Linked DNA regions of Homo sapiens. The protein of the gene in region 3 purifies or fractionates together with the protein of the main gene of each other region. This does not show direct contact. Each region holds a gene or a part of one and is shown on either strand. Other genes may lie near its edges. The genes, in order: RAB3GAP1, FAM83H, C6orf141 and RNASEH2A.

Region 1 (8,463 bases), on a different chromosome or scaffold from region 3:
AAATAAAAAAGAAAAACTATATGATTATCTCAATAGATGCTAAATAAGATTTTACTAACTTGACTACTCATTTACAATAAAAACAAAAAACGTTCAGCAAACTAAAAAAATAATTTACTCAGTCTTATGGACACCTATTAAAAAACCTACAGTTAACTTAAGTTTTGAAGCATTGAACATTTCCCCCCACTTCACATTTAAAGAGGGCAAGGATGTCTACTTGCAGCAGTTCTACTCAACATGTCACTGAAGGTCTGGGATAGTACAATAACAGTCATAAAGGTATAAAAATTGGAAAGAAAGTAAAACTGTCCCTATTTGTGTGCAACATAATTATTAATGTAGAAAAATGCAGAACAATTAAATGATCACGATTAATAAGTGCGTTTAGCCAGGCGTTATGACACAAAGTTAACATACAAAATTTTACCATGTATCTATGTACTAGCAGTGAACAACTGGAAAACAAAACTAAAAAACAATTCCATTTATTTTTGCATCATACAACATAAAATCCTTAGTAATAAATTTAACAAAGGATATACAAGACCTCTACCAAAACTACAAAATGTTGCTGAGGAAAATTAAAGATGACCTAAATAAATGGAGAGATGTGCCATGTTCATGACTAGAACTTTCAAAACTGTTAAAATGTCTCCAAAGTGATCTACAAATTCAACCCAACCCCAATTACAGTCTCAGCATAATCATACTCCTTTTTATAGTAATTAGCAAGCCTATTCTAAAATTCATAATTGAAACACAAAAGATCTAAAATCTTGGGAAAACAACAAAAATGGAGAATTTACATTAACATCAGGATTTACTAAAAATCCATTCAATGGTTCTCAGCTGGGGCCAATTTTGCCCCTCAGCGGGCATTTGGCAATATCTGGATACAATTTTGGTTGTCACAACTGGAAACATGTTACTGGCATCTGGCAGGTAGAAACCAAAGATACTATTAAATATTTGACAATGCATAAGACAGCCTCACAACAATGTGGCCCAAAATGTCAATAGTGCCAAGGTTAGGAAACCTGAAACTACAGTAATCAAGACAATATACGACGGGCGCAGTGCCTCATGCCCGTAATCCCAGCACTTTGGGAAGCCGAGGCGGGCGGATCAGCTGAGGTCAAGAGTTCAAGACCAGCCTGGCCAACATGGTGGCAGGAGGCTGCAGTGAGCCAAGATCAAGCACTCCAGCCTGGGTGACAGAGTGAGACTCTGTCTCAAAAAAAAAAGAAAAAGACAATATGGTATTGACATAAGGATAGTCAAATAGACTAATGAAACAGAATACAGACTCCAGAAGTAGACCACTTAGGTCAACTACTCAATAAAGGTGACAAAGCAACTCAATGGAAAAAGTGTTTTCCAAAGTAGGTTCTAGAACAACAGGATATCCATACACAAAAAAAAGGAAGAAGAAACTTGATCCCTACTTCCCTCCATATAGTAGCTCAAAATAAATCATAGACCTTAACAAAGGTTAAATGATAAATTGGTAAACCCTCTAGAAAAATGCATTAAAAACATCTTCACAACCTAGCAAAACTACTGAGAAAAGACTTAAAAGCAGAATATATATATACCAAAAAAAAACTAAAAGAACTCCTACAACTCAATAAAAACAAAATCCAATTTTTAAAATGGATAAAGAACTTGAAAAGACATTTCACAAAGGAAGATAAACAAATGGCTAATAAATGCATGAAAATTCAAAGTGGTCAATATTAATATCATCACAGAAATACAGACTAAAACCAAAATGAGAAATATAAATTAAAAGCACAAACTACATACCCATTAAGATGACTAAAATATACATGACTGCAAACAACTGATTGTTGGTGAGAATGTATAGCAACACAACCTCCCATGTATTGATGGTGGGCAGGTAAAACAGTACAAAAAGCTCTAGCTGTTTCTTATAAAGTTGCACCTATCCTATTACCCAGTGATTCCAATCCTAGGTATTTACTCAAGAGAAATAAAAACATATGCCCACAAAAGGCCTCATACAATAATGTTCTGCTTTATTCCTAATAGTACGTATGTGGACAAGTGAAAGAAACCATGTATATTCATAAAACAGATCACTTACTACACAGCAATAAAGAGAAATGAAATTCTGGTATGTACAACAACCTAGATGAATCTCAAAAACATTATCGTGAGTAAAGGATGTCAAGGACATTTATGGTCACCTAAATGTAAAGTTCTAAAGCAGGTGACAGTAATTTATGTTTATTTAAAAAAAAAAAAAAAAAAAGGCTGGGCCCAGTGGTTCACACTTGTAATCCCAGCACTTTGGGAGGCCCAGGCAAGCAGATTGCTTTAGGCCAGGAATTGGAGACCAGCCTGGCCAACGTGGTGAAAATACAAAATACTAGAAACACAAAAATAGCCAGGCAAGGTGGCATATGCCTGTCGTCTCAGCTTCTTGGGAGGCTAAGGCATATGACTTGCTTGAACCCGGGAGGCAGAGGTTGCAATGAGCCAAGATCACACCAATGCACTCCAGCCTGGGCAACAGAGCAAGACTCTGTCTCAAATAATAATAATAATAACAATAATAATAATAGCAGATGACTGGAGGGCATGGGAATTAACTAGAAAGGGTCACTAAGGATCTTCCTGGGGTAACAGAGATGACCTCTATCTTGACAGGAGTGTAAGTTATACCCATGTGAACATTTGTCAAAATCAAGCAGTTGGCCAGGCGCGGTGGCTCACACCTGTAATCCCAGCACTTTGGGAGGCCGAGGCGGGCAGATCACAAGGTCAGGAGATCGAGACCATCCTGGCTAACACAGTGAAACCCCGTCTCTACTAAAAAATACAAAAAATTAGCCAGGTGTGGTGGCGGGTGCCTGTAGTCGCAGCCACTTGGGAGGCTGAGGCAGGAGAATCTCTTGAACCCGGGAGGTGGAGGTTGCGGTGAGCTGAGATCATGTCACTGCACTTCAGCCTGGGCAACAGAGCGAGACTCGGTCTCAAAAAAAAAAAAAAAAAAAAATCAAGCAGTTAAGTTTTGTCCATTACAATGTATATAAATCTTACCCAAAAAAAAACTATTAAAAAAATCTAGTGGAGGTAGGGGAGTAAACAGAGGTACCACTCAAACAAGAAATGGCAAAGTATTAATTGTTGACATTAAGTGATGGGTACATGGGAGTTCATTATACTATTCTGTTTACTTCATATATGTTTGAAATTTTCCATAATTAAAGGTTTTTAATAAATAATTTCCCTTAATTCCCCCTCAGTGGAGGAGAAAATTAATAATCACTGTCCTTCATATAAGTTAAAATCTTCAAAGGAAGTCTCTAAACTTTGTTTTCTACACCAAACAATCCCTGTCCTCTACACTTTCTTCATATTCATCATAGTTACAGCTCACCTTGAAATCTGCCCATATTTTCTGTATCTTATTTATGTACTACTATCTAGTAGGGAGAAACAGACTGGAGCTATGACTTCATTAGCCTCTACTACATGCCTGGCAGTATGCTACCTACTTTAAATAACTACCCACTTAAATCCCAAAACTGAATTTAGCATCTAAAACTTTAACCCTTAGAGTGACTTTAGTTAACACTAATTGACTGTACATTTCAAAATAGCTAAAAGAGAGTAACTTGCATGTTCTTAGCATAAAGATAAATATTTAAGGGTTCCCAAGTACCCTGATTTGATTATATGCATGTATCAAATTATCACATGTACCCCAAAATATGTACATCTATCATATATCAATTTAAAAAATAATAATAAAATAAAATTTTAATGTTTCTTTACTGATCACCCTCACTAGAATTTATGTTCAATGGCAACACTGATCTTATCTTGTTCACAATTTCTTCACATCAGGCACATAGCAGGTACTCAGTAAATACATGTAAATCAAAGAATGAAAGAATATCAGAGCTCATAAGTACCCGGTTTAGCTCTCTTCTTAGTAGTGTAAATCATTTCCTATTCTAGCTATATCCAGCTTATTTTGCCTCTAATCTTATTGGCATCTATATCAATTGTTATGTATTTGTTTCAAGTGGAGTAGAATGACCCGTGTTTGAAAGCGTCACATTTTCTTTATTCACACATGTAGTGTAGTAAATCAATGTATATATTGCCAAGAGTCTTTGAATGATGTATTTTTTATATGTGGTCTTACTTTTTCTGTTCATATTGATACAAATAAGGAGATTTTTTTTCCTTAAGAGACAGGGTCTCACCATGTTGCCTGGCTTCCTAATGCATTTTGACAGTCTCTTTTTTGATAGTATCACCATCACAAAGCTGAAAACCCCTAGCAAATATTGAGAACTCAAAGTTCCTAACACAGGGTAAATTATAATTAAATTACTATTGAATTAATAATTACTGAGTTAATAAGTTATCACTGAGTTAGTAATATTGAGTTGTAATAAAACCAACCATAAATTTTATTTCAAAAGAATTTATCTAACAAACTAAGCATCTACATAAACTTAAAATCAAATTGTTAGATCCCTTCACAGTGAATCCAGGTTTGTTCTCAGAGTACATTCTTCAGTAAACATTTGGGGTGTGGTTTATGAATAAAACTACCAATACTTTAGATTAGAATTTGATTTCTACCTCAATTTCAAAGAGTAATTTTTTCATTCTTAAATAAAATCCTTAAAACATCCATAAGTTAAAAAGCTTAAAAGGGAAGGGGGATGTTATTAGTGATATTATAAAATACAAAAACTGAGTGAAATAGTTGTTAACTACAGTAAGTCAATGGTAAGTACTAGAATTTTCCTCATTAGTAAGCAAAATATGCTACCAAAGAAGATGGTCACTGCAATGTTTCTCTGACCAAATAAAAAACTTTTAAAAACATGTTTTAACATTCCAAGGGAGAAGGCAAAAGAGAAGCAAACTTCACTCACAAAGAATCACTCACAAAGAATGACATTTTATATATATATATATACACACACACATATATATAACTTTATTAAACATTTCACAAATGTCTTACATATATCATTTGCCACAGATTTAAATCCAAATTCTTCCAAATGCTATTTGATGTTTATAGATTATACGTAACTTTAAAAAACATTTAATTCAAATGTGCCAAATGCAGCAAAGGGCTGGAAAATAGAGGTTTCAAAGTAAATAGTCATTTAGAGACACCAGCAAATAGATCTGACCTTTTCGAGTGGCTTTCCCAAAGAGTTTCCAATCAGTTTCCAGTCATTCAAGACTTCTTCAACTTTGGAAATAAACCTAGGAAGTAGGGAGAAAGCTTCTAAATACAACAGCACACCTTTTTTCCTATTATTATGTAATTTCTTTAAAAAGGTATTTTTTATATTTTAACAATTTGACCAGAGAGGACTCAGTACATTTAGTATTGCTAGCTTAATTTATGGATATGGGGTAAGAGAAATAATCTTCTTTCATTCAAGAATTCTTAGGTTTTGATTCATTTATATCTATTGCTTACCCAACAAAAGCATTCTGCCTTCTATAAAATGTAAATTAAGAATTGATGAATCTCTAATAAAACGAATAAAACAAATTTGGGGCACAAATAAAAACTGACAGACTAAAATGATACTATTAAAGATAATTATGGGCTGGGTGCAGTGGCTCATGCCTGTAATTCCAGCCCTTTGAATTCCTAACCCTGAGGTTGGGAGTTCAAGACCAGCCCAGCACAAATACAAAAAAAATTAGCCCGGTGTGGTGGCACACATCTGTAATCCCAGCTACGCAGGAGGCTGAGGCACAAAAATCACATAGAAGCGGACGTTGCAGTGAGCGGACATCGCGCCACTGCACGCCAGCCTGGGCGACAGAGTGAGATTCCATCTCAAAAATAAATAAATAAATAAAATTATGAAACCAATCATCTCTCTCCTACCCACAATAACTGACCTATTTAAATAAACTTTTCCTTTAAATATATTAGGAATTCCGATTTACCCCCCCAGCCCCCAACAAAAAAAGAAAATATTATTTGGTAACTTGGTTCATGAAACTAAAACAAGTTTTAATGGACAGCTGACAAGAAATTGCAAGTAAATATGTCAACTTTAAGTATAAGTGACAGGTCTTAAAACTAGTCACCAATCTTTAAATCCAATGGTCAAGAAGGCCTATTAAAAAGAGAACTGAATTTTGAGTAGCAACATGCTCAACATCAGTAAATGAAAACTGTCAAGTCTCAGTCAAAGACATTTTCAGAAGAATTATTCTTACTCTAAGTTGACTTCTTATATAAGCTAAGTATGATGCAATCTAACAGCAACATTGCTCTCTAAACACCTGGAAGTACTGCTAGAGTACTAGAGTTAATTCTAGTCAAACTGTATGGAAAGGCAACAGATTTTTTCCTTCAGTGACATTATGAACTAATATGAACTAATAATTATGTTTTAAGATAGTAATAATAAATCTATGATTCATCTGAGGCTTCTTACTAATTCCTCTTTAAAATTAAATGCAGTATCAATTCATACACTAATTCATGGGGGAGGTCAGTCAAATGACAATTACTAGGTTTGAAAATCAGTGCTCTAGAAACAAGTTTACATGTTTACCAAAGAGGAAAAATTTAATATATCCACAGGCAAGCAAAAATTTGCATGAAATGTATACTATATTTACGAAGCTAAAAAAACTGGAAGTTACCTTAATGCCCAACTGCAGGAAATACTTGTAAATTAATCCACTCAGAGGACTAATATGCACCCAATAAAAATCATGTCAATCAAAAGAAAATATACAAAGGCCAGGCACAGCGGCTCACGCGTGTAATCCCAGCACTTTGGGAGCTGAGGCGGGTGGATCACGAGGTCAGGAGTTCAAGACCAGTTTGTCCAAGATGGTGAAACCCCGTCTCTACTGAAAATACAACAAAAATTAGCCAGGCGCGGTGGCAGGCACCTGTAATCCCAGCTACTCAGGAGGCTGATGCAGGAGAATTGGTTGAACCCAGGTGGCAGAGGTTGCAGTGAGCCAAGACTGCACCACTGCACCCCAGCCTGGGCAACAGAGTGAGACTCTGTCTCAAAATAAAAAAGAAAAGAAAAAGAAAAAGAAATATTAATATTTGATCCAAAAAAGTTTTTAACACACGTTAGAAGGAAATATGTCGGCCGGGCGTGGTGGCTCATGCCTGTAATCCCAGCACTTTGGGAGGCCGAGGCGGGCGGATCATGAGGTCAGGAGATCGAGACCATCCTGGCTAACACAGTGAAACCCCGCCACTACTAAAAATACAAAAAATTAGCCGGGCGTGGTGGCGGGCACCTGTAGTCCCAGCTACTTGGGAGGCTGAGGCAGGAGAATGGCGTAAACCTGGGAGGCAGAGCTTGCAGTGAGCCGAGATCGCGCCACTGCACTCCAGCCTGGGCGACAGAGCGAGACTCCGTCTCAAAAAAAGAAAAAAAAAGGAAATATGTCAAAAAATTAACAGCAGTTATTTCCTGGTGTTAAGTTTACAGGTGATTTTTATTTTTTATTCTACTATAAGGTATTACTATTATAGTGAAAACTATTTAAAATATAGTTTTTACAGTAAAAGAAGAAATGTCTTTTTTTTTTTTTTTTTGAGACAGGGTCTCAACTCTGTCACCCAGGCTGGAATGCAGTGGTGTAATCACAGCTCACTGCAGTTCTGTCCTCCAGGACTCAAGCAATCCTCCCATCTCAGCCTCCTGACTAGCTGGGACTACAGGTGCACATCACCATGCCCAGCTAGCTTTTGTATTTTTAGTAGAGACAAGGTTTCGCCATGCTGCCCCAGCTCCTCTTGAACTCCTGAGCTCAAGTGATCTGCCTGCCTCAGCCTCTCTAAGTGCTGGGATTACAGGCATGAGCCACCATGCCCGGCCAGGAATGTCTTAAAATACTTATTGTATGAATAATGAATTCTATCAGTACTAGCTAAGAGACTTGGACTTTATCCTACAAGTATTGAGATTTGACTAGAAAAACTAAGTAATTTTTTCCTTAAAAGCTCTCAGGAAATGAAGGGTCATTTCCTGATTCCTTATTCTATATTAGGTCCCTCTGTTATAGGCTCTTATAAGACCAGGTTTCTTTCCCTTTCTAGCTCTTACATAAACTCATAATTACAGACTTGTATTACTTGATTTGTGTCTGTAATGCACTAGACTGCACATTTAGTAAAAGCAGAAACCGTACCTGTTTTACTAACCACCACATCCCTAAATCCGTAATGTGCACTGTGCTTGACATATGGGGATTCAATAAATATTGTCAATGAACAAATGATAAAAAGAGTTATGGGCTTCTATACAGTTCTCTCAATAAATTATCTATATAGTTCATAACATATTGTACTCACAAGATCTTTCATTTAAAATTAAACTCAAGGTTTGAGACTTCAAAGTCTTAACATTTTCTCTCATGAATTGTAAAATGCACACTACAGTGTAAAAGCCAAAA
Region 2 (8,463 bases), on a different chromosome or scaffold from region 3:
TGCCAGGCTCACAGTCTGGGAAGCTCATAGGCCGGAGGAGCTCACAGTTTGAAGGGTGCGGCCTGTGCTGTGGTCGGTGTTGGGCTGCCAGGAGAGGGGCGCTGCTGGGTTGTGGAAGCCATTGCCACCATGGGGGAGGGCGGGGAAGGACAAGATGTGGGTGGGGGAGCTGAGCAGAAGGTGAGAGCTGGCGCTGCCCTGGTGCTGGACCAGGCACCTGCAAGAGACTCAGAAAGGGAGGCTGGGTTTGGGAGAAGGTTGGAGGAGGCGGAGGAGGGATCGGGAGGGCCCGAGGAAGCGGTGAGCCAGTCAGAGACCCAGCCCAGGGGCTGTTTCCTGAGGGGGCTGCCGAGGGAGGTGCTTGTTGAGCTTCAAAAGCCCAAGGCGCAGGCCCAGGGTGCTGAACAAGCAGGACAGAGAGGCTGTGGGAGAGGAAGCTGCAGAGAGGCCACGGGGCTGCAGGGTTGGAGGCTTGGCCTCAGGCTGGGCAGTGTGTGGTGGGGCTGCTGAGTGGGGAATCGCAGGTGGGCACCCAGGAGTGTGCCTGCACAGGGGGCATCGGGGACAGGGACAGGAGAGCAGCGTGAAGTTGGGGAGGCCAAGGTGGGCCTTGGAAGTGGAGCTGGGGGGTCTTTAGTGCCCCCCACAGGGGTGGGTGGTGGGTCCACAGGGGAAATCTGGGAGGCCACGTGGTTAAAGGCTGCAGGATGTAACTGGGCGATTATACACACTGGGGAACATGCTAGAATACTTTGTGTGTTGTGTTTTATTAACACCAAAATGTGCCACATCATGGTTTAGAAGAGGTGGAGGGTGCAGGCAGGAGGCTCCGAAGGCCCAGGCAGGGCCGCCAGCCTCTGGCCTCTCCATGGACTCCAGCTGGAGAGCCTGTCCGCTCAGCAACACCCCAGGCAGCACCAAGAATAACATGCCCACAAGAACATCATGGCCAAGAGACGCACAGGCGCATCCCGCTTCCAGGCACCTTTCCCACCTGGCCAGAAGTCCCTGCTGTCATCCCGACTTGCACGGTGGTTTTGGTAACCAGTGGGCTGTGCAGGAGTGAAAGTGGGGTCACTTTCCTTCCTTTCCCAGCTGCTGGAGTCGGAACTGCTGCCTTTGTTTGGCGGCCTTGTTTCTTAAATCAGTTCCCTCTTAGGATTTATTACACTAAAAAAAAAATTAGTTTTTGAAAAGAAATAGGAGAATACAGAAACATGAATTTCACGAGGCTATCATCTAACAGTGGGGGCTTTCTACACACGTGGTGCCAAAATGTGTCATTCTGAGTCAATTGCAATTCCTCTCTAGGAGTGAAAAGAGATAAAAGATAAGCCAAGAACCCTGGACAGATTCTTGGTGTTGGTGACAAAGAGGAAAGGACCTGAGAATGGGGCTGGTGGGGAGAGGGGGGTGTCTGCTGGATACCAGGAGGACAAGGACCACTCCCACCTGCAGGGGTGCCCAGGACCTAGTTGGGCTCGGCCTCAGCTGCACCTTGTCCCCTGCCCTCACCTGGCCCCATACCTGTCAAGGATAAGCACTCCACAACCAGCCCTTCTAGCGCCTGGCTTGGGCCGGGCCTGTGCAGGGGGTGCTCATGAGGCCGGGGCCACAGGTTGTCTGGACCATGTTTTACTGTGCTGCAAAGGCCAATGCCCCCTCCCCACTCTCACCCAGTGCTGGCCAGAGCCTCGCTGGAGGAGATGGCAGACCTGGCCAAGGCGCCCCTTCGGGCTTCCCTGTGTCCCGTCCCCAGAGGCCTGCCCTGTCCAGCTTCCTTGCCACTCCAAGGGGCATCTTCTGGTCCAGCTCCCCCCCCCCTGCCCCACCCACCCCTTGCAAACTGCCCGCAGCCAGCCCAGTCTTCCCCACAGCAAGAGACGGGCCTCCAAAAAAGATGCTGGGAGGCAGCGAGCAGGAGAATCCAAGTAGGAAAGGAAGTGAAGCCCAGGCGGGGGAGGGGGGAGACGGGGGGGGGGGGGGGGGAGGGAAGGAGGAGACCTTGAGAGAGGGAGGGAGCGGGGAGGGGGGAGGCCCTGAGAACAGGAGGCCCTGAGGAGGAGAAGGGCCCAGAGAATGAGGAATTGAGGCACAGAGGCGAGACCCTTGCAAGAGGATAGGGGACTTAGCGGGGTGCAAGGCTCACGCCTGTAATCCCCCCACTTTGGGAGGCTGAAGCGGGCTGATCATTTGAGGCCAGGAGTTGGAGACCAGCCTGGCCAACATAGTGAAACCCTGTCTCTACTAAAAATACAAAAACTACCTGGGCGTGGTAGCATACATCTGTAATCCCAGCTACTCAGGAGGCTGAGGCAGGAGAATCGCTGGAACCCGGGAGGCAGAGGTTGCAGTGAGCCCAGACCGCTCAACTGCACTCCAGCCCTAGGTCTCAAAAAAATAAAGGGGGCGGGGGGGACTGAGGCACAAAGAGATGGCGGAGCCAGACGCTGCGCCACGCAAGGCTGACGGTGCAGAGATGAAGGTGCTGAGGGGAGAAAGGCACTGGTGGCGAGGGGTGCAGCCCCAGCGTTGGGGAGGCCAGGGGGCAGAGACGGCAGCTGCCAGGTGAGCCTCCAGTGGAGCCGAGGTCTGGCGCACTCAGCCAAGCCCCAAGCGGCCGTGGCCTGACAGCCGCTGCTCAAGCAGATGAGCAGGGCTCTCTGTTCCGCGGGGCTTCTGGATGACCGGGGCAGCGATGCGGGCACCCTGGCCTGGGTTGCCAGGCCAGAAGACTCACTTCTTGCTTTTGAACGTGCCCAGGATCTTGGGCACGAACTTGCCCACCTTGCTGTCCCTGGTGCCCTCCTCCGCGGGGCCTTCCCCTGCCCCAGGGCTGCTGGCCTCCTCTTTCTTGCAGAAGACCTCGAAGCGGCTGTACACGCGCTTCTCCTTGCGCATGCTCTCCATGCGGCGCAGCAGCCGATCGCGCTCCTCCGCGCTGGCTGGCAGCGTGCGGCTCAGCCGGCCCTGGGTCCCCAAGCTGTCCGAGCGGAAGATGGCTGAACACTTGTCCTTGTCGGACATATCTGGGGCCAGGACGCCAGCAGCCGGTGGACGGCCTAGCTCGGGGCTGTTGTGGGTCGGGCCGGGGCTCGGGGCAGGGACCGCACGGTGCTTCTGGCCGTGGGCACTGATCTGCTCCAGAATGGCCTTCGTGTCATCCCGAAGGTTGCTGCTGTACAAGGCGTTGGCCGTGGCTGAGGACAGGCGCGCCCGCGGACCCCGCTCTTCTGTGGCAGCCTCCGTGCTGTCACCCTGGCCCAGTGACAGACGCCGCGGGCTCTCGGGTTGGCCGTTCTCCTGCGGCACTGGGAAGCCACCCTCATCCTCCATGCGCCGCTCGCCCTTGGGGCTCAGCAGCTGCCTAAGACGCAAGGAGCCTTTGCGCAGGACTTCCATGGGGCCGCTCGGCCCCTCCTCCGCGGGCCCGGCCTTCGGGGACTCCCCGGAGATGGTAAGGGTGAGGCTGCCCCTGCGCTCCGGCACGGGGGGCACCGGACTGCTCCTGCGCTCCGGCACGGGGGGCACCGGACTACCCCTGCGCTCGGGGTAGGCTGAGGTGGGGCTCCCCTTCTGCTCGATAAATCCTGTAGTTGGACTTCCTCTTCGAGTGGAAAACCCAGGCGTGGGGCTCCCCTTCCGCTCAGGGTAAGCCGAGGTGGGGCTCCCTTTTGACTCATTATGGAGCACCTGGTGCGCTCCGGACCCTTCCAGCGGCAGAGGGCTGTCCAGCCCTTGCGGGGACGTTGAGTGGCTCTGGGCAGAGAGGAAGCGGGAAGGCAGGCGGTCGGAGCCGCTCCGGCCCAGTGTGTCGAGCAGCTGCGCCGCGGTGAGCGACGCGGCTCCCGGCTGCCGCTCCGCCTCCTGGTGCAGCTGCTGTGCAAAGGAGTCGCGCAGGTCCAGCAGGCAGCTCTCGAGGCTGCGGCGCTCGCCCCCCACGGCACCTGGGGCCGCCACCTCTTCCCGCCACGCCTGGGACACGACGGCCTTGCTGTGGCTGGCAACGGTGATGGCGCCCGCGCCGCCGCCGGGATCACGGGCTGGGCCCTTGTACTTCTCCAGCAGCTCCGCCACCTTGGTGGAAGCCGCGGAGCGCACGGCCTCTCCGCCGGGCCCCAGCGTCTCGCTGACCGTCTGCTCCTTGTGCAGCAGCTGCACCTTCTCAGTGGCCGCCGCAGCCCCGGCCGCGCCCTCGGCCTGTGACGTGCTGAAGATGAGCGAGGAGCGCAGCCTGGAGCTGCGCTGGACCAGGGGGTTCAGGCGCGAGCGGAATGAGTCCTGCTTGGCCAGGCCAGGCTCCTCCGGGCCCTCGCGCTCTGGGCCGTTGCCGCCGCTGCCCGGGCCTGGCACCGGGACCTTGGTGGGGAAGGCTGCTGGGACGCGGAAGGCCGAGGGGAGCAGGTCGCCGGCAGGTGCCCGGCCCCCGGGAGCCAGCACGTCGTCTTCGTAAGCCTCCGCTTCCATGGGCGCCGGTAGGCCGTCGTCGCCCCCATCCTCGCCGTGGCAGCCGCTCAAGTAGGAGGCCAAACGCCAGCGCCGCAGCCCTGCCCGCCCCTCGGGCCCGCCCCTGCGCTCCGGCTCCGCCTCGGGAGCGGGGTCTGGGCCCGGCCTCGCCGCGGCCTGGCATGGGAAGCGCTGGGTCAGGTTGGGGCGCGGGGCTCCGCTGGGCTCCAGGCCGCGGGGTCCGGGCGCGAAGGCGGGGTCCGAGCCGTGGCGCACCTCGCGGGACGCGCTGGACGGCACGTAGTCCAGCCGCTGGTGCCCGTCGGGTCCGAGCTCCGGGAAGCGGGGCCCGGCGCCCAGGGTGAAGTCATCCGGGTCCGCGAAACCCGCGCGGCCCCCGCGAAGCTTCTCGAACAGGCCTTGCGGGCGCGCCGGCGTGAGCTGCGGGTCCCACTGGTACTGCTGCTGGTAGAGCTGGTCACGGTGGAAGTGGCTGGTCTGGAAGCGGAAGTCGTCGCCGTGGCTGAGGAACGTCTGCCGCGACACCTGCCGCGCGGCCGCGAAGTTCTCCACGGCGCCCGCGCCCTCGGTCGCGAAGCTGTGCCGCTTGAAGGCGTCCATCTCCAGGTGCCGCGCCTGGAAGAAGCCCCGCGCGCCCGCGAGCTCCCCAGCCGGCCCGGCCTCGGCCTCCAGGCGCCGCGAGAGCGGCCGCAGCCCCGCGTGCGGTTCCAGCGCGCCCCCCGGCATCCGCGGCGGCTCCTCCCGGCGGAAGGCCGACAGGAAGTGGCGGTCCGGGTCGAGGAAGGAGGGGAAGCCCAGGCCCTCTTCCCGGGGTGGCGGGAACAGGAGGTGCGCTCGTTTAGGGAAGGAGAAGGGGGTTGGCGCCCCGACCCCAGGGACGCCCACGAGAGGCCCGGCCCCGGCATACGGAGCCAGGGCATAGGCGTCCATGCGGGCCAGGGCCGCGGCCGAGGGCACAAGCGGCTCGGACTGCGCGAAGAGGATGCGGAACTCCTCGTCGAAGCTGGAGACCAGCTCTCCTTGGAACACGTGCGCCAGGCTGCGGTGGATCTTCTCAAAGGACCACATGAAGCTGTGGGGGGGTCAGGGCCAGAGTCAAACCGAGCTGGAGCGAGGGCACTGCAGCCCCGTGGGCAGCGGGTGGGGCGCGGAGGACGCAGGGATGTGAGGTCTGCAAGGACCTGGGCCCGGCTAGGCTGTGCAGGGGTCTACAGGACAAGGGCTCCTGGCGAGGAGGGCCCTGGTGTGGAAAGGGGGTGCTGGGGTTACAGGAGGAGGCCCCAGAGAAGGGGGTGAGGGAGCCCCGCGGGCGCACCTGTAGCTCCCACTCATCACCACGGCACAGTCCACCAGCAGGAACTTCTCCTTGACGTGGCCCTTGAAGGACTTCCCAGTGCGGCAGTAGTAGGTGGGGCCCGCCACAGTCCGTACGCGCAGGAACTGGGGAGGGAGGGGAGTCAGATCTCTCCCACGGGTCCTCCCCAATCTCCCACTCCCGGGAACTCACATCCACGTGCTGCAGGTTGACACGGCACTTGTCGGCCATGTCCAGGAAGTGCTGCGCGTTCATCTCATCCAGCAGGATGTAGACTGGGACCCGACGGGCCGCGGCCTCCAGCACTTCGCTGAGCAGGTCCACATCAGTGAACATGTCCATCACCACGGCCACCACCTGCAGGGGCGGGTCAGGACGGAGAGGAGAGGCCCCTGCTGTCCCCACACCATTGTCCAGCCTCCCCTCCACACCCGGGAGGTGTCTGGATCACCCACGACCACTGTGAAACAAGCTAGTCCATCCTAGGGAGTTGGCGCCACATCTGGGAAGATGGGCAGGAAGAAGGGACCAAACAGAAGAGGTGTGGAACGGCTGGCCATAAGGGGGAAACCGAGGCAGGTGCAGGGCAGAGAACCCTGGATGAGGGTGGGCCAGGTTGGGGCACGGCAAGGGCCCCTCAATCCCCTCCACCCTACAGACGGCTGAGCTGCCCCCATTCCAGGGCAGCTGTCAGGGCCAAGTGCCAGGCTCCAGTTCTGCCCTGGGACGGGGTTGTTGCCCTGGGCAGGGGAGAAAGTCACAAGCCTTTAGCGTCTGGACCTCATGCCTCAGTCGCTATGGTTTAACAGCACCTTCCGCCGTCTGCTAGCTGTTTGGTGATGGTTAGAAGCCCTCAGCTGGCCAAGGGCCACCGGGCAGGATGAGAGGTAATTATCTGAACAATGAACCCAGGCTGGTGGGGTGCCCACCCATCCCCAGAGCCCCCGAGTTTCTGGGCACTGGCCATGACCACAGGCAAGCAGACCTGTGCAGAGCCTGCAGCCCCTGATGACCGAGACCTGGCAGCCCTGAAGATCTTTGCCAGGGACCCCCACTCCAGCTGGAGCTCAGGCTCACCCCTCAAGCTGATCATGCTCATGCATCTCCTCCACCCCCGTGCCTCTAGCCCAGGCCCCTCCCCCACTACCCTCAAGCCCAAGATGGCGCACCTGCTGGGCGGAACGGATCATCCTGCGGGCCTCATCCTTGATACTGGGGCTGTCGGGGGGCGGTGGCTGCACCAAGGTGGTCACCTCGGTGCCCTGGAAGCCGAAGGTCAGAGGCCAGCCCAAATCAAGCTCAGGCACGGCCTGGTCTGAGTTCACTGGCCAGTATGTACCCGAGGAGCCATCCATGTCCACGTCGAGAAGGCTGCCTTCAGGTGGCTCTCGGGTAACATACTGCGGAGGCCGAAGGTGTCGGCTCACATGTTCCAGCTCTTCAGGGCACAGGAAGTCTGGTGCCCCCTCGGTAGCGAGGAAGCGGCTGTAGGCCTCCGAGCCACCCTCGGCCAGTGCATCCACCGCCAGGCGGTAGTACTCTTTGTAGTGAGGCGGCAGGTACCCGGGTGCCAGTGGGTTGTCCCCCTGCGAGGAGCTCTGAGAGCGACGGGCCATGTTGGGGCCAGGGGCCTGGAGGGGCAGGGAGACACATGACTAGGGGTGGGGGCACTGGGACCACTCCTACCCTCGAGCATGGACACACTGTGGAAAGGGCCGTCAGTGACTTGGGTAGGCTGGAGTTTAGCCCATGCCCAGGAGGCCTTCCAGGGCACCAGCCGAACCAGGCTCACAGAGAGCAACCCAGACCCTAGGATGCCCCTAGCTGAGGGGACACTGGCAGAGGGCTGGGGCACAGGTATCCCAGCCCTGTCTCTCCTTTCTCTGGGAGGCTGAGGCAGGAGGACTGCTTGAAGCCAGGAGTTTGAAACCAGCCTGGGCAACACAGCAAGACCCCATCTCTACAAAAAATTTTAAACATTAGGCAGGCATGGTGGCGTGCACACATAGTCCCAGGCACTTGGGAAGCTGAGACAGAAGGATTGTTTGAGCCCAGGAGTTGGAGGCTGCTGTGAATTATGATTGTGACACTGCACTCCTGCCTGGGTGACAGAGTGAGACCACATCACTACAAAAAATAAAAATAAAACGAACCCCCCCCCCCAAATATTTCATGACTGTTGGCTTAAAGACAAACAATCCAGGCTGCATTCATCATTATAATATTCACTTTTTTCTTATTTTAAGACATTCACGGACCCCTGGCACTGTGCCTACTGGACAAGCTGGTGCCGCCCATGCTGCCCATGTGTCCGTCTCTGACTGCCTGGGAGACTGTGGGTAGGTCACTGCACCTCTCTGGCCTACCTCTACTGCACAACACAGCTGAGGGTCCACATGACACCACGCCTAGCCCAAGGTGAGCGCAGCAAACAGGGCTGTGACTACCCTCCTCCTGGAATGGCAACCTTAAGCCCCACACATAGTCCCGGGCCACACCTCCTCCCCATCCTCAGGGTTTCACAATTGGGCTCCCACAGCCCATTCTATGACCGCCCAGTCCTGGAACACTGATCCCTAGACTCCGTCCCTGTCTCCCAGCACCCCCTCCTTCCCTTGGCCTACCTTTGACCTCTTTCTTGTCACTGTCCCTCTCAGATAAAACCTCCCTGGGCCACAGCC
Region 3 (7,627 bases):
TGCCTCCAGAGAAGGCAGCTGAGTGATGCTACTTACCATTTTTGGTTATTGTGAAAGAGACTTTTTTTGTTCTCTATATTCAATGATTAGTCACCTGGGACATGTGATGATTCAACCAAATTAATAAGCTCAGGTCTGAAACTTACATGCCAAGTAAGTTAATCTCCCACTGGAGTCAGGGAGGGTTGTTAAGGAAAAGAGATTCATTTTAAGGGATGAATCTTTTCTACCTGTCAAGCAATTTTGAACACAGATGAGCTCAGATGCTGAATTCCTCTCCCAAGTGAGGGTCTCACAGGCCTAAGAACTGCTAGTGATGATTCTCCAGCCAAGAGGCCTTGCAGAATTCAGGAACATTAAGGTGATTCTAGTACTTCTCATAAACATGAGTTAGAAAACCTAAGATATTGGCCAGGCATGGTGGCTCATACCTGTAATCCCAGCACTTTGGGAGGCGGAGGCAGGAGGATCACCTGAGGTTGGGAGTTCAAGACCAGCCTGGCCAACATGGAGAAACCCCATCTCTACTAAAAATACAGAATTAGCCGGGGTGATGGCACATGCCTGTAATCCCAGCTACTGAGGAGGCTGAGGTAGGAGCATCGCTTGAACCCTGGAGGTAGAGGTTGTGGTGAGCCAAGATCGTGCCGTTGCACTGCAGTCTGGGCAACAAGAGAGAAACTCTGTCTCAAAAAAAAGAAAAAAATAGAAAAAGAAAGAAAACCTAGGATATCCTCAGGCATCTTTTGACCCCTAAGTAAGGGTCAAATAAATCCTCTAAAGGCTGCCCCAAACCTTTAGGAGGGAGATTATCACATTCTTCATCCACTTAGTAAGCATATGCAATTACTAGCTGTGTGACTTAGACATGCTACAAGACCTCTAGGCCTAGGTTGGCTCATGAGTAAAACAGGGGCATCTTATCTATCTGGCCTGCCAGGAGGCAAGAGGTAGATCAGATGATCTTTTGAGAACACTTCAAGCTCTAAACTAAAAATGAAGGCAAAAGGGAAGACTGGGGAAGGAGGCACTTTTCAACTATTTGCTCATCAAAAGCCAGAGTCCTACCTGCTTTGTTAATTCTTGCAGTAAATACTCCTTCAGGTGGTAAAGTCAAGCAGTTCACCTGGAGAGGGCTGCTTTGCTCCTCACAGAGCTTCAACCAGGCCAACTACTAAAGAGTTAATTCACATAGTATTTAATAATAAAGAGGAACAAACAAAATAAGAAAAATTAGTTGTTTCAGTATTACCAGAGGAGATTTTTTTGAACTACACAAGGAGAATGGTATCTTCAATCTATTCTTGACTACAAGTCTCATTAATGAAGAACTATGGAAAAGAATAAGACATGCATTCATTTTATGGCAAACTACATATTGCTATCTACCTTTAGTTCAGAACATTTACATGCAGTATTTTTAATATTAAAATTAAAATGTATGATAAATGCATGTTTACAGGACTAAATTAGCTATTGTTTGCAGTAAAGCCTTTGTAAATGGAATTTCACGTTGAAATCTTAGTCTTCTGTCCCCAACTCCTTCTTTCCCTAGCTCCTCTCGTTTTCTTTCTAACACTGAAATGTGGGGGAGAAAAATGAAAAGTGCACATCAGAAGAGAGTCACTTGCTGCTTTGGTTTTACTTTCCCATTTCTTTTTACTTTCTGTTTTTGGCTTTTAAAACAAGCCTCTTCTCCACCCACTCCCACCCTCTTTGCAGAGAGCAGACTTCAAACTTCACTTCTGTTTCTAGGTCCTAAAGAGAAACAAGAGGGGGGCGGGGAACAGAAAAGAGATCAATTGAGAGTTATTCCAAAATGCAAATTAACAACAGGTTTTCTCATTTCAAAACTCCCACATTCTGCCAATCTGAAAATATCTTTTCTCCACCTCTTCTGAATGACTTAGGTCCCCAGACAGCGAAGGAATTCAAGCCACAAAGGAGGTATTATGCTGCTTACAGTTCTTAATCTGCCTCCCCGAAGCGCTGCACCAGCCTCTCAAAAGGTTCCTTCTGTAGGTTAATTGCAGGTTGGAGCTCCCAGAATAGCATTTTCTTTTAAGGATGATCGCTCATCCACCATCCCGGAACATTTCTCGAGCTACTCATTAGAGTTTAATTTCCTCGAGCCAAGTCCCTGGAGACGGTGAAACCCTCCTCCCCGCGGCGTGGACGCGGGATGCCCCTGTTCGTGCCTGGAGAGCCCGGGATTCAGCAGGGCCCCAGCGTTCCCCAGGCTGTCCCTCTCTACTGCTGCGAAAAGTGAGCGCGGTCACGAAGTGCTCCTCAGTCCTCGTGGTCATGCGACCCTTGGCCCAGGAGGTCTGCAACACTTCTTGTGTTACCTGATAATCCTCCACCCGCACAAGCACGTATTTGGGTGGGTCTGCTGCGTCCCGCGGCGGGGCTACACGCCTGCCAGAAATTCGCTTTTGTCGTTGAAAGACAGAAGGGTAGTTGGGCTCCTCGCCGTGGTCCTCTCCACCCGCATGAGGAAGGTCCTCTGCACCGGCCACCTCTTCCCGTGCAGGGTCCCCTCGAGTCCCTAACCACCTCTCTGGGTGCAGGAGAAAGAGCACTTTCTCTCTGACCCAGGACTCACGGTCCAATTCCTCCCCGGCCCGAGGTCCGAGGGCCCGATCTGCCGTTCTGTCCTCGTGGCCGCCGCCCTGGCTTCGGCTCGCCCCTGCCGTCGCGGGATTCCGGGCGCCCGGAGCTAGCGGAGCCCCGCGCCCTACCTCCCGCGGAAAAGGCCCGAGGTCCCCCAGGCTGCGGGAGGAGTCCATGGGATTCGCAGCTCCCTGAGGCCCCCGGGTCTCCATCCTGGCAAAAGGGTCATTCATTCGTTCCTTCTTTGACCGGTTCAAGCAGCAAGCGCCTGCTGAGCTCCGGAAAGCGCGGGACCACCAAGCCCTGGGTGTGGCCTCTGCTGCAGCTCCGGACTCCCAGCCGGTGAAAGCTGAAGACTAGATCAGCCCCAGGCTAACCGCGTGCGGAACCCGCCTCTTCACCCTCCGCCTCTCCCACCTGGCGGCTGTCTAGCCATTCAGAAGAAGCTTGACACAAGCCCCAGTCACTCCTCTTCTTCCTCCTACCCCTGTCCGGAGCCCTGCTCCCTTTGTCATTCGCTGATTCAGTCCCCTCTTACTTTTCACCTCTATCCTAGTTTCCCACCCACCTTTCGTTTTTCTCCGGAGCTGAGGCGCAAAGGACACCCTCGCACTGCGCCCCCACTGAAATGCCCCGAAGTATGTTTGCTTTCCAAGGACGCTCCTTGAGGTGAAGGAACAAAGAAGTTTGTGTGCATTTTAATTAGCTGATCTAATTCTGAAAAGGGTTTTTGTCCATTCCGAATCCACTCCCACCATGCTGCCAAAATAATGGAATGTAGATCAAATGGTCAGACTGAAAAGCTGAAGCCTTGGAGAAACTGGTTTTGGTTTCTTTGTCCTTCTTCCTTTAGAATGCCAGAATCTGTAGCTCTGGAGGACAATGGTCACACCTGTGTCCTCCTCCTCCTCTTCCTCCTCCTTCTTTTTTCCCGCTCTCTTTCTCTCTCCCTCTCCCCGCTCCCCCTTCCTCTTACCCCACCCCCCCACATTAGATATGGTCTCGCTCTGTAGCTCAGGATAGAGTGCAGTGGCGCAGCCTCGACTTTCCAGGCTCCCACCTCAGCCCGTCAAGTAGCCGGGACTACAGGCGCGCACCCCCATGCCCGGCTTTTATTTATTTATTTATTTATTTATTTATTTATTTATTTATTTATATTTTTCTAAGAGATGGTAGGGGTGGGGCTCTCCTATATTGCCCAGGCTGGTCTGGAACTCCTGGGCTTACGAGATACCCAGGATCCCCCACCCTACCCACACACCCACCTGGGCCTCCCAAAATTCTGGGATTACAGGCTTGAGCCACGGCCCTGGCCAGTCTTCATTTTGTGTGTAATCAACGCTTGTCTCAGGAAGGTGTAGTCTTTGATTTAAAACAAGCTATAAAACAGAAGCAAAACAAACATCCAAATGAATTTTTTCAGGACTTAAAATTGTTTGTGTTTGTGTCGTTTATAAAATTCCCTCTGCACCCACCCGTCCTCTTTAACCACAGGGGTTAAAAAAAGTTAAGTGTCTCTGGCGAGGCTTTTAGAATTTACCCATAGGCAGGCCCGCTGACCACTACTCTTTGCCTAAGGTTAACCGGGGAGGCTAGGTCATAGAAAAAGAGCTCAGTTTGTGGTTTCCAGTTCATCCTTAGCTGTTTGTTTTATTAAAAAACCCACTGATGGCTGGGTGTGGTGGTTCACACCTGTAGCCCCATCATTTTGGAAGTCTGAGGCCGGTGGATCACTTGATGCCAGGAGTTTGAGACCAGCCTGGTCAGCATGGTGAAACCCAGTCTCTACAAAAAGTACAAAAATTAGTCAGGCATGGTGGTACACACATGTAAGTAATCCCAGCTACTTGGGATGCTGAGGCACCAAATCGCTTGAACGGGAGAGGGGGAGGTTGCAGTGAGCCAAGATCATACCACTGCTCTCTAGTGTGGGTGTTAGAGCAAGAATCTGTCAAAAAAAAAAAGAAAAAGAAAAAAAAAGAAAGGAAAGAAAGAGAAATCTAAATCCTGCCTGATTTAGAAAAATGAGTGCAATGGTGAAAAATTCTGCCCATATGTAAAAAACAAAGTAGTATAGTGAGATATTTGGAAAGGGAGGACTTTTGATATCTGCCAAATCATATAAAGAAATAAAGTGATAGAGGAGGAGTGAGAAAATCTGGGTCAGACCTGGGTGATTAGAAGCCTGACCTTAGTGGGCACAGCGGCGCCTACTGGTAATCCCAGCTGCTTGGGAGATTGAGGTGGGAGGGTGTCTTGAGCCTAGGAGTTGGAATCTGGCCTGCACCATATGGTGAGACCTCTGTCTCTTCAACAACAAAAACAACCAAAAAATATACATGCCTGACCTTGGGCTGGTTTCTCCTCAATCACAATGAGCTCAAATTTTTGAGTGTCTTAGCCAAGAATTGTTCTAAGCACTCTATATATTTAAACACATTTATTCTTCACAATAAACTGTGAAAGTAGTAGTATTTCTTTGGTCTCCTTGAAATCTTTGAAGCACAAAGAGGTTAAGTGTGTGCCCAAGGTCAAACACCAATAAACAGTGGAGCCAAGATTCTAACTTATTTAAATGCTTGCTCCAAAATGACTTCTAAATTACCTTCATATTTTAAGCCTGTGACTTCATGTTCTTTTCTATTCATTTACATAACCACTAATTACTAACTATATGCTACTCTTCTAGGTGATAGAGACATCTGGAGGAACAAACCAAATTGCTTATCCTCTTAAAGATTTTATTTATTTATTTATTTACTTATTTATTTGAGACAGAGTTTCACTCTTGTTGCCCAGGCTGGAGTACAATGGCACCATCTCAGCTCACTGCAACCTCCACCTCCAAGGTTCAAGCAATTCTCCTGCCTCAGCCCCCTGAGTAAGCTGGGATTACAGGTATGTGCCACCACACCTGGCTAATTTTGTATTTTTTGTAGAGACGGACTTTTACCATGTTGGCCAGGCTAGTCTCAAACTCCTGACCTCAGATGATCCACCCACCTTGGCCTCCCAAAGTGCTGGGATTACAGGCATGAGCCACCACATCCGGCCTAAAGTTGTTATTCTTATATATGCAGTAACATACATCAATCCTCTGTTCAGAACTAGGAGATAATCAATTAACCTTAATATACATGAAAATTACCTGCAGCTCAAGTCTTACCCTCCTTACAAAGATTCTGTTCTTATAGGTTTGGGGTAGAGATTAGGATACAGATTTTTAGCAAATCCCTCAGTAATTCTAACCTAGTGGTTTATGGACATTATGAGAAGCATTTCCAAAAATATGTATAGATAAACTCTAACACTTTTTTGCTTATTTAGAGTTGCAACAAGAATACTATATTTTCTTTCCTTGAAGAATATTGGGAGAATTCCAATAAGGTATCTGTATTTTAAGGGAAATATAATGTAAACCACAACATTTATTGCTTTCAAATAGTTTTCTTGCCATTGTGGATTGCATGAGATATTAGAGTAGGGGGATGAGAAAAGAGGAAAAGTTATTTGCTGAAGAATGAAGCAGACTCATTTGTCATATTGCACTTGAATTTCTAGATGTCAAGAAGTTATGTATTAATGCATGAAAGAACATGAAGGGGAAATGCTAAATAAATCAATCTTCAAAAAGGTAAAGTCTAAAAAGAATATCAACCAGAAAAACAGGCAGCTTGCCTCAAGGATAGTGGTGTCTGTTGTGCATTAATATCTCAAAGTGCCTAAAAGACTGATAGAGGACACTAAAGTGAACCCATTTACTTCCTCTCTGATGTGCCCATTATAGCTGCAAATATGCAGGCCAATGAGGGGTAATAAAGAAATTTATATTTCTGGGATCTGTAAAATTATTGGGGATCATCAGCACATGCTCTGCCCTGGTAGGGCCAAAAGAAGAAGACTTTAATTAATAGCCCAATCTAACCAAAGACCAGTCCCTCTTATTTTGCCTATTAGAACTAGAACTTATTTTACATACTTATGACACTCTCAATCATTTGAGCAATTCTGCCTTCCGAAGGTTTACTCTCCACTTGCAGACCTCTGCCTTTAATTTACAACTGTAGCAATATTTCATAGCTTATTTTTCCCCAATCAGATATAACATTCTTGAGTTGAAAAACTTGTCTATTCAACAGTTTTTAACTTCTGAGAAAGCAAAAAGTGGCCCTTCAGGTGGCCAGGCCATGGTGATCCCAACTGAACATTATCAAAACTCAGAATAGAAGCATCGTTTATATAAAACCACTCTGTGACCATGTTTGGAACAAGACAGACAAGAACACTAAAAACCGTAAAGAAGATTAAACATCCCCCTCTTATAGCTAACAGAAGTGACTATCAATCCTTTACTAATGATACTTCTGGTCTACATCTACTTTAATCCTCTCCTTTCCTAGATAAAAGTCACCAAGGTACCCTATCACGGAGTTGATCCCAGTTCTTGACAACATCTAATGCAGCACTGGCTCCTGCTTCCTTAAATCTTATTTAGGACTATCATCTCTAGTCCAAATCCTATACAAAGCCTCTCCCAAATCCACTTAGTGAATTATCCCATAATTACTCAAGGGTGCATTCTTAGCTGCTGAAGCAAGAAAAATAAACCTAACTTATTTTTCTTTAGTACAGGAGTGTTCCTGCTGGTCTTTGTTTACTAAAATGTAAAACTTGTCAATTTAGAAAGCATATAATGTTGTACTCCCAAATGAAGTAGATACATACATTGTGGGTAGAAAGTGAGGGGGACACATTGGAGCAGGAATGGATTTGTAGTTACTTGGTTACAATCAGCTTGAAGTGGCTGATTAAGAAATGCGGCAATGCATCAATTGAATACATATATCAATCAAATAAAACAATACATTAATAGGATTTTACTTTTAAGTGGGAAATACAGAGTTGTAGCAAGTAGAAGGACAAAGAAGAACTCTTCTATTTAAGCATATTAGCTACAGTTTTTGTTTCTGTATCTGGTTGTAGAGTTAATGTGACACTCTATGAGTCTATACAA
Region 4 (6,020 bases), on a different chromosome or scaffold from region 3:
GAGACCATCATGGCTAACACGGTGAAACCGTGTTTCTACTAAAAATACAAAAAATTAGCCAGGCCTGGTGGCACGCACCTGTAGTCCCAGCTACTCGGGAGGCTGAGGCAGGAGAATCATTTGAACCTGGGAGGCAGAGGTTACAGTGAGCTAAGATTGAGCCAATGCACTCCAGCCTGGGTGACAGAGCGAGACTCCATCTCAAGAAAGAAAATTTAAAAATTTTTAAAAATTAAAAATATAACTAAAAAGGTCGGTGCAGTGGCTCATGCCTGTAATCCCAGCACTTTGAGAGGCTGAGGTGGGCAGATCACCTGAGGTCAGGAGGTAGAGAGCAGCCTGACTAACATATAGTGAAACCTTGTCTCTACTAAAAAATACAAAAATTAGGCCAGGCGCAGTGGCTCACACCTGTAATCCCAGCACTTTGAGAGGCCAAGGCGGGCAGATTGCCTGAGGTCAGCAGTTTAAGACCAGTCTGGCCAACGTGGTGAAACCCCGTCTCTACTAAAAATACAAAAATTAGCTGAGTGTGGTGGCGCATGCCTGTAGTCACAGCTACGTGGGAGGCTGAGGCAGGAGAATCGCTTGAACCCAGGAGGCAGAGGTTGCAGTGAGCCAAAATTGCATCACTGCACTCCAGCCTGGTGACAAAGTGAGACTCTGTCTCAAATTAAAAAAAAAAGAAAGAAAGAAAAGAAAAGAAAATTAGCCGGGTGTGGTGGTGTGCACCTGTAATCCCAGCTACTCAGGAGGCTGAGGCAGGGGAATTGCTTGAACCAGGGAGGTGGAGGTTGCAGTGAGCCAAGATTGTGCCATGGTACTCCAGCCTGGGCAACAGGAGACTGTGTCTCAAAAAAAAAAAAAAATTAGTTGGGCATGGCACACGCCTATAGTCCCAGCTGCTTGGGAAATTGAGGCAGGAGAATCGCTTGAACCTGGAAGGCAGAGGTTGCAGTGAGCTGAGATTGCCCCATTCTACTCCAGCCTGGGTGACAGAGTGAGACTTCGTCTCTCAAAAAAATAAAATAAAATAAAATAAAATAAATAAAATTTAAAAATGAAAAAAATCAAACCAAATAAAATTAATCAACCAACACCCATTCTATTTAAGGTTCCAAAAGGAAGTAGCTGGACCCGGCTGCAGAGCACACTCCCACCTTGCTTCTGTCCCAAAAGTACATCCCCTACGTGTGGTTCTCCTTAAACAATTTTAATGTCTGGGTTGGGGAAGCAGGTAGAGCGCGTAGAGGCAGCTGCTAGAGGCTGGTTGCTGACTCCAGGCCGCGTTCCAGGAAATATCGGTGGGAAGAACGGGGACGGGCTTGGGACCCTTCATTGAGGAAGTAGGATGTGATCTTCCTGAGTCCCTCCTGATTCTCGGATGCTGAGTCCTCCCTGTGGGAGAGAGGTGATGACAGTGACCACTTACACAGGGAGCAACCCTCTCAGGCAGGGCTGAACGCTGGCCTCCCTCCTTCCTTCCCTATAGCACCCCCAGGACATCCATGACACCCACCATATAACATCTTCCGCCTCTTTCTCCAGGATGGTCTGGGCCGTGCGCCAGCTGAACCGGACAAACTGGGGGAAGCCGAACACAGGCTCCACGTGCTCCTTCAACCACGCTTTTGTCTTGGGATCTGGGGTAGGGTGGGCAATGGTGACAGTCCAAGTTGCACCATAACATTCAAGCTCCCTGCCACTCTTTTTTTTTTCTTTGAGATGGAGTCCCACTCTGTAGCCAGGCTGGAGTGCAGTGGCGCGATCTCAGCTCACTGCAACCTCCACCTCCCGGATTCAAGCGATTCTCCTGCCTCAGCCTCCCAAGTAGCTGGGACTACAGGCGCATGCCACCATGCCCAGCTAAATTTTGTGTTTTTAGTAGTGACGAGGTTTCACCATGTTGGCCAGGATGGTCTCAATTGCTTGACCTCGTGATCTACCCCCCTCGGCCTCCCAAAGTGCTGGGATTACAGGCATGAGCCACCACGCCCGGCCTCCTTGCCGCTCTTCTAAGGCTTCCTCCTGAGTACCTGGGGCACCTCCTATGGTCTGAAGCACCTTCTTGCCACAGGACCTTTACCTGGCCAAGAGCTGCTAAAAGGGCAGTGCAGGGAGACTGCCTCTGAGACATCTCCTTGACCTCCAAGAACAAGTCATTAAACATTTTTATTTTATTTACTTATTTTTTGAAATGGAGTCTTGCTCTGTCACCCAGGCTGTAGTGCAATGGTGCGATCTCGGCTCACTGCAACCTCCGCCTCCCAGGTTCAAGCGATTCTCCTGCCTCAGCCTCCCAAGTAGCTGGGACTACAGCCACCCACCACCATACCTGGCTAATTTTTGTATTTTTAGTAGAGACGGGGTTTCACCATATTGGACAGGCAGGCTGGTCTCAAACTCCTGACCTCAGGTGATCCACCCACCTCAGCCTCCCAAAGTGCTGGGATTACAGGTGTAAACACCACACCCAGCCTTTTTATTTTTTTGAGATAGGGTCTCGCTCTATTACCCAGGCTGGAGTGCAGTGACATTATCACAGCTCAATGCAACCTCTGCCTCCCAGGCTCAAGCCATCCTCTCACCTCAGCCTCCCAAGTAGCTGGGACTACAGGTGCGCACCACCACACCTAATTTTTGTATTTTTTGTAGAGATGGGGTCTTGTCATATTGCCCAGGCTGGTTGTGAATTCCTGAGTTCACATGATCTACCTGCCTCTGTCTCTTAAAATGCTAGGATTACGGGCATGAGCCACCTGGCCCAGCCTGTCATTAAATATTATTATTATTATTATTATTATTATTTTGAGATGGAATTTTGCTCATTTCCCAGGCTGGAGTGCAATTATGCGATCTCGGCTCACTGCAACCTCCACCTCCCAGGTTTAAGTAATTCTCCTGCCTCAGCCTCCCGAGTTGCTGGGATTACGGGCGTGTGCCACCACGTCCAGCTAATTTTGTATTTTTAGTAGAGATGGGGTTTCACCACGTTGGTCAGGCTGGTCTAGAACTCCTGACCTCAAAGGATCCACCTGCCTCAGCCTCCCAAAGTCCTGGGATTACAGGTGTGAGCCACCACGCCTGGCTAACATTATTTTTTTTTTTGACACAAGATCTCATCTTGTCACCAAGGCTGGAGTGCAGTGGCATAATCATAGCTCACTGCAGCCTCCAACTCCTGGGCTCAAGCAACCCACCCACCTTAGCCTCCTCCTCCAGAGTAGCTGGGACTACAGGTGGGCACCACTATAACCGGCTAATTTTTTAAATTTTTTATAGAGATGGGGGTCTCGCTATGTTGCCCAGGCTGGTCTTGAACTCGAGGACTCAAGCGGTTCTCCTACCTCAGCTTCCCAAAGTGCTGGGATTACAGGCATGAGCCACCACGCCTGGTCCCCTTCCCCTTAACAAAGGGACAAATGCCCACCTTGGGTCTCAGTCCATCACTGGGGCTCCAGAAAGACAGCAAAGTGGGAAGCGGGGAAGACAGCAGCAATCCTATGGCCTGGAATTCAGCTCTATCACTCACTGGCTGTGTGGCCATAAACAAATGGCACCACTGTCTAACACTTGGCCTCTTTCACTGTGGAGTAGGGTGACCAGAGCAATTTAGAAAACCTCCAGCCAGGCACAGTAGTTCACACCTGTAATCCTAGCTATTTGGGAGTCCAAGGCAGGAGGATCACTTAAGCCCAGGAATTCAAGACCAGGCTGGGCAACATAGGGAGACCCCATCTCTTTAAAAAAAGAAGAAAAAAAGGGCCAGGGGTGGTGGCTCATGGCTGTAATCCCAGCACTTTGAAAGACCAAGGTGGGAGGACTGCTTGACTCCAGGAATTTGAGACCAGCCTGGGCAACATGACAAGACCCCATCTCTATAAAAACAAAAAATAGGCTGGGCACGGTGGCTCATGCCTGTAATCCCAGCACTTTGGGAGGCTGAGCCAGGCAGATCACCTGAGGTCAGGAGTTCAAGACCAGCCTGACCAACATGGAGAAAACTAGTCTCTACTAAAAACACAAAATTAGCTGGGTGTGGTGGCACATGCCTGTAATCCCAGCTACTCGCGAGGCTGAGGCAGGAGAATCGCTTGAAGCCAGGAGGTGGAGGTTGCGGTGAGCCGAGATCGCACCATTACACTCCAGCCTGGGCAAAAAGAGCGAAACTCCGTCTCAAAAAATAAACAAAAATAACAAATAAAAACAAAAAATAAGCAAAATAAAATGATAAATGACAGAAAGGAAAAAAAGAAAACCTCAGAAGTGTGCTCAGCCCTGGCCATTTCAACATTAGTACCATGGTCACGTGTCTGCTCACCATTGGGGTAGCCTGAGCCATAATCAGTATCCAAGTCCTGCAGTTTCTCCACGAACTGCCATTTCTTCACGGCCTGGTCCCGGGCCACCTGTGGGCAAAACAGGCACCTGGAATCTCCCTCCTTCCCTTTGGTGGCCATGCCTGGCCCCTATATAGTGGGATGGTGGAAGCCAGCCATGGCTAGTAGGGTACTGACCTTGGCACAGATGCTGGCAGCACTAACCACCGGGTAGAGGGCATCTGCTTTGGCCTTGACCGTCACCTCAATCCCGGGAAAACTTTGCTGCAGCCGCGCCTGGTATGTCTCTGGCATCCCTACGGTGTCCACGAATACCTGCCACAGCAACAGACACATATTAATTGAACAAACAACTGTACCAATGCTCTAGCCTCACAGCCCTGGCACGTTCTTCCTGCTACCCAGAATCCTCTTCTCCAGCACGTCCCCAGGATGGATCAATCAGGGATTTCAACTCGAACATCTCCTCCTAGACCAGGCAAAGTTGTTCAGGCCTGTGATCCCAGCACTTTGGGAGGCTGAGGCGGGAGGATCGCTTGATCCTGGGAGTTTGAGGCCAGGCTTGGCAACACAGTGAGACCCCATCTTTATAAAAACATAAAATAAATACAATAAAATAAAGAAAAAACTCACCTCCTGAAGAGGCTTTCTCTATCACGCTGCTTTTACTCTAACTTATTTAGCACCTACTGCATGCCACATACTGTTCTAGGAACTGAGGTGGCAGAAAACACTAGAAAAAAATTGGTAGAGTGCGTTAGCACAAGCCTGTAATCCCAACACTTTAGGAAGCCGAAGTGGGAGGATCGCTTGAGGGCAGGTGGTTGAGACCAACCTGGGCAACATATGGAGACCCTGTTTCTACAAAAAATAAAAAGTTAGCTAGGTGTAGTGGTGAATAAAGGCTTGAAGGAGGTGAGGAAGTGAACTGTGCAGAGATCTGGGGAAGAGGGCTCTAGGTGTGAGAACAGCCAGTACAAAGGCCCTGAGCTGGGACCAGGTTCATGATGCTGGGCCCATGCATGGGGGCCTTTGGCTGCAGCACCGAAGAGAGGGTCCAAGAGCTGCTGGGGGAAAGTGGTATCTCCACAGCACTACTGTTTTCAGAAACAACCTTTATTTTTTGTTTACCAGCTGACCATCTTTCATGTTTTATTTTTTTATTTTTTATTTTTAGTAGAGATGGGGTTTCACCATGTTGGTCAGGCTGGTCTCGAACTCCTGACCTGATGATCCGCCCGCCTCGGCCTCCCAAAGTGCTGGGATTACAGGCGTGAGCTACTGCGCCCAACCTCCAGCTGACCATCTTTCTGCCCAGGCTAGGCCCTGAACGCCTACGGGTAGGGCCCTTGTCTGTCTACACCAGTTACTGTATCGCCAGCTCTGCATTTGGGCCTGGTCCTCAGGTCCCTCCTCAGCAGGGTCTACCTTGCTATAATTCCTTTCTTTCTTCTTCTTTTTGTGGAGATGGAGTCTCGCTATGTTGCCCAGGCTGGTCTGGAACTCCTAGCCTCAACCAATTTGCTCACCTCAGCTTCCCAAAGTGCTGGGATTACAGGCGTGAGCCACCATACCCAGCATACAATTCCTACGTCAAGGTTATTTTGCCTTGTTATTCTCTCAGAACGGTCCATTCTTTCATTGAGAGCATTCGAGGCAATGCTGATTTATGTTTTTCTC

What was found.
Region 1: the proteins of C6orf141 (region 3) and RAB3GAP1 purify together in Homo sapiens (affinity purification with mass spectrometry; 2 studies listed by BioGRID and IntAct, with this or other methods). This does not show direct contact.
Region 2: the proteins of C6orf141 (region 3) and FAM83H purify together in Homo sapiens (co-immunoprecipitation; 3 studies listed by BioGRID and IntAct, with this or other methods). This does not show direct contact.
Region 4: the proteins of C6orf141 (region 3) and RNASEH2A purify together in Homo sapiens (affinity purification with mass spectrometry; 2 studies listed by BioGRID and IntAct, with this or other methods). This does not show direct contact.

Annotation. Positions count from the first base shown.
Region 1 is NC_000002.12:135,054,819-135,063,281, reverse strand, and holds part of RAB3GAP1 (rab3 GTPase-activating protein catalytic subunit), read right to left. Parts: intron 5,272-8,463; coding exon 5,196-5,271; intron 1-5,195. UniProt on the Homo sapiens protein: Catalytic subunit of the Rab3 GTPase-activating (Rab3GAP) complex composed of RAB3GAP1 and RAB3GAP2, which has GTPase-activating protein (GAP) activity towards various Rab3 subfamily members (RAB3A, RAB3B, RAB3C and RAB3D), RAB5A and RAB43, and guanine nucleotide exchange factor (GEF) activity towards RAB18.
Region 2 is NC_000008.11:143,723,185-143,731,647, forward strand, and holds the end of FAM83H (protein FAM83H), read right to left. Parts: intron 7,414-8,463; 5' UTR 7,399-7,413; coding exon 6,952-7,398; intron 6,140-6,951; coding exon 5,975-6,139; intron 5,908-5,974; coding exon 5,783-5,907; intron 5,540-5,782; coding exon 2,737-5,539; 3' UTR 749-2,736; downstream 1-748. UniProt on the Homo sapiens protein: May play a major role in the structural organization and calcification of developing enamel. May play a role in keratin cytoskeleton disassembly by recruiting CSNK1A1 to keratin filaments. Thereby, it may regulate epithelial cell migration.
Region 3 is NC_000006.12:49,546,012-49,553,638, reverse strand, and holds C6orf141 (uncharacterized protein C6orf141), read right to left. Parts: upstream 2,972-7,627; 5' UTR 2,847-2,971; coding exon 2,112-2,846; 3' UTR 1,544-2,111; downstream 1-1,543.
Region 4 is NC_000019.10:12,808,706-12,814,725, reverse strand, and holds the end of RNASEH2A (ribonuclease H2 subunit A), read right to left. Parts: intron 4,656-6,020; coding exon 4,518-4,655; intron 4,410-4,517; coding exon 4,322-4,409; intron 1,644-4,321; coding exon 1,520-1,643; intron 1,399-1,519; coding exon 1,260-1,398; 3' UTR 1,086-1,259; downstream 1-1,085. UniProt on the Homo sapiens protein: Catalytic subunit of RNase HII, an endonuclease that specifically degrades the RNA of RNA:DNA hybrids. Participates in DNA replication, possibly by mediating the removal of lagging-strand Okazaki fragment RNA primers during DNA replication.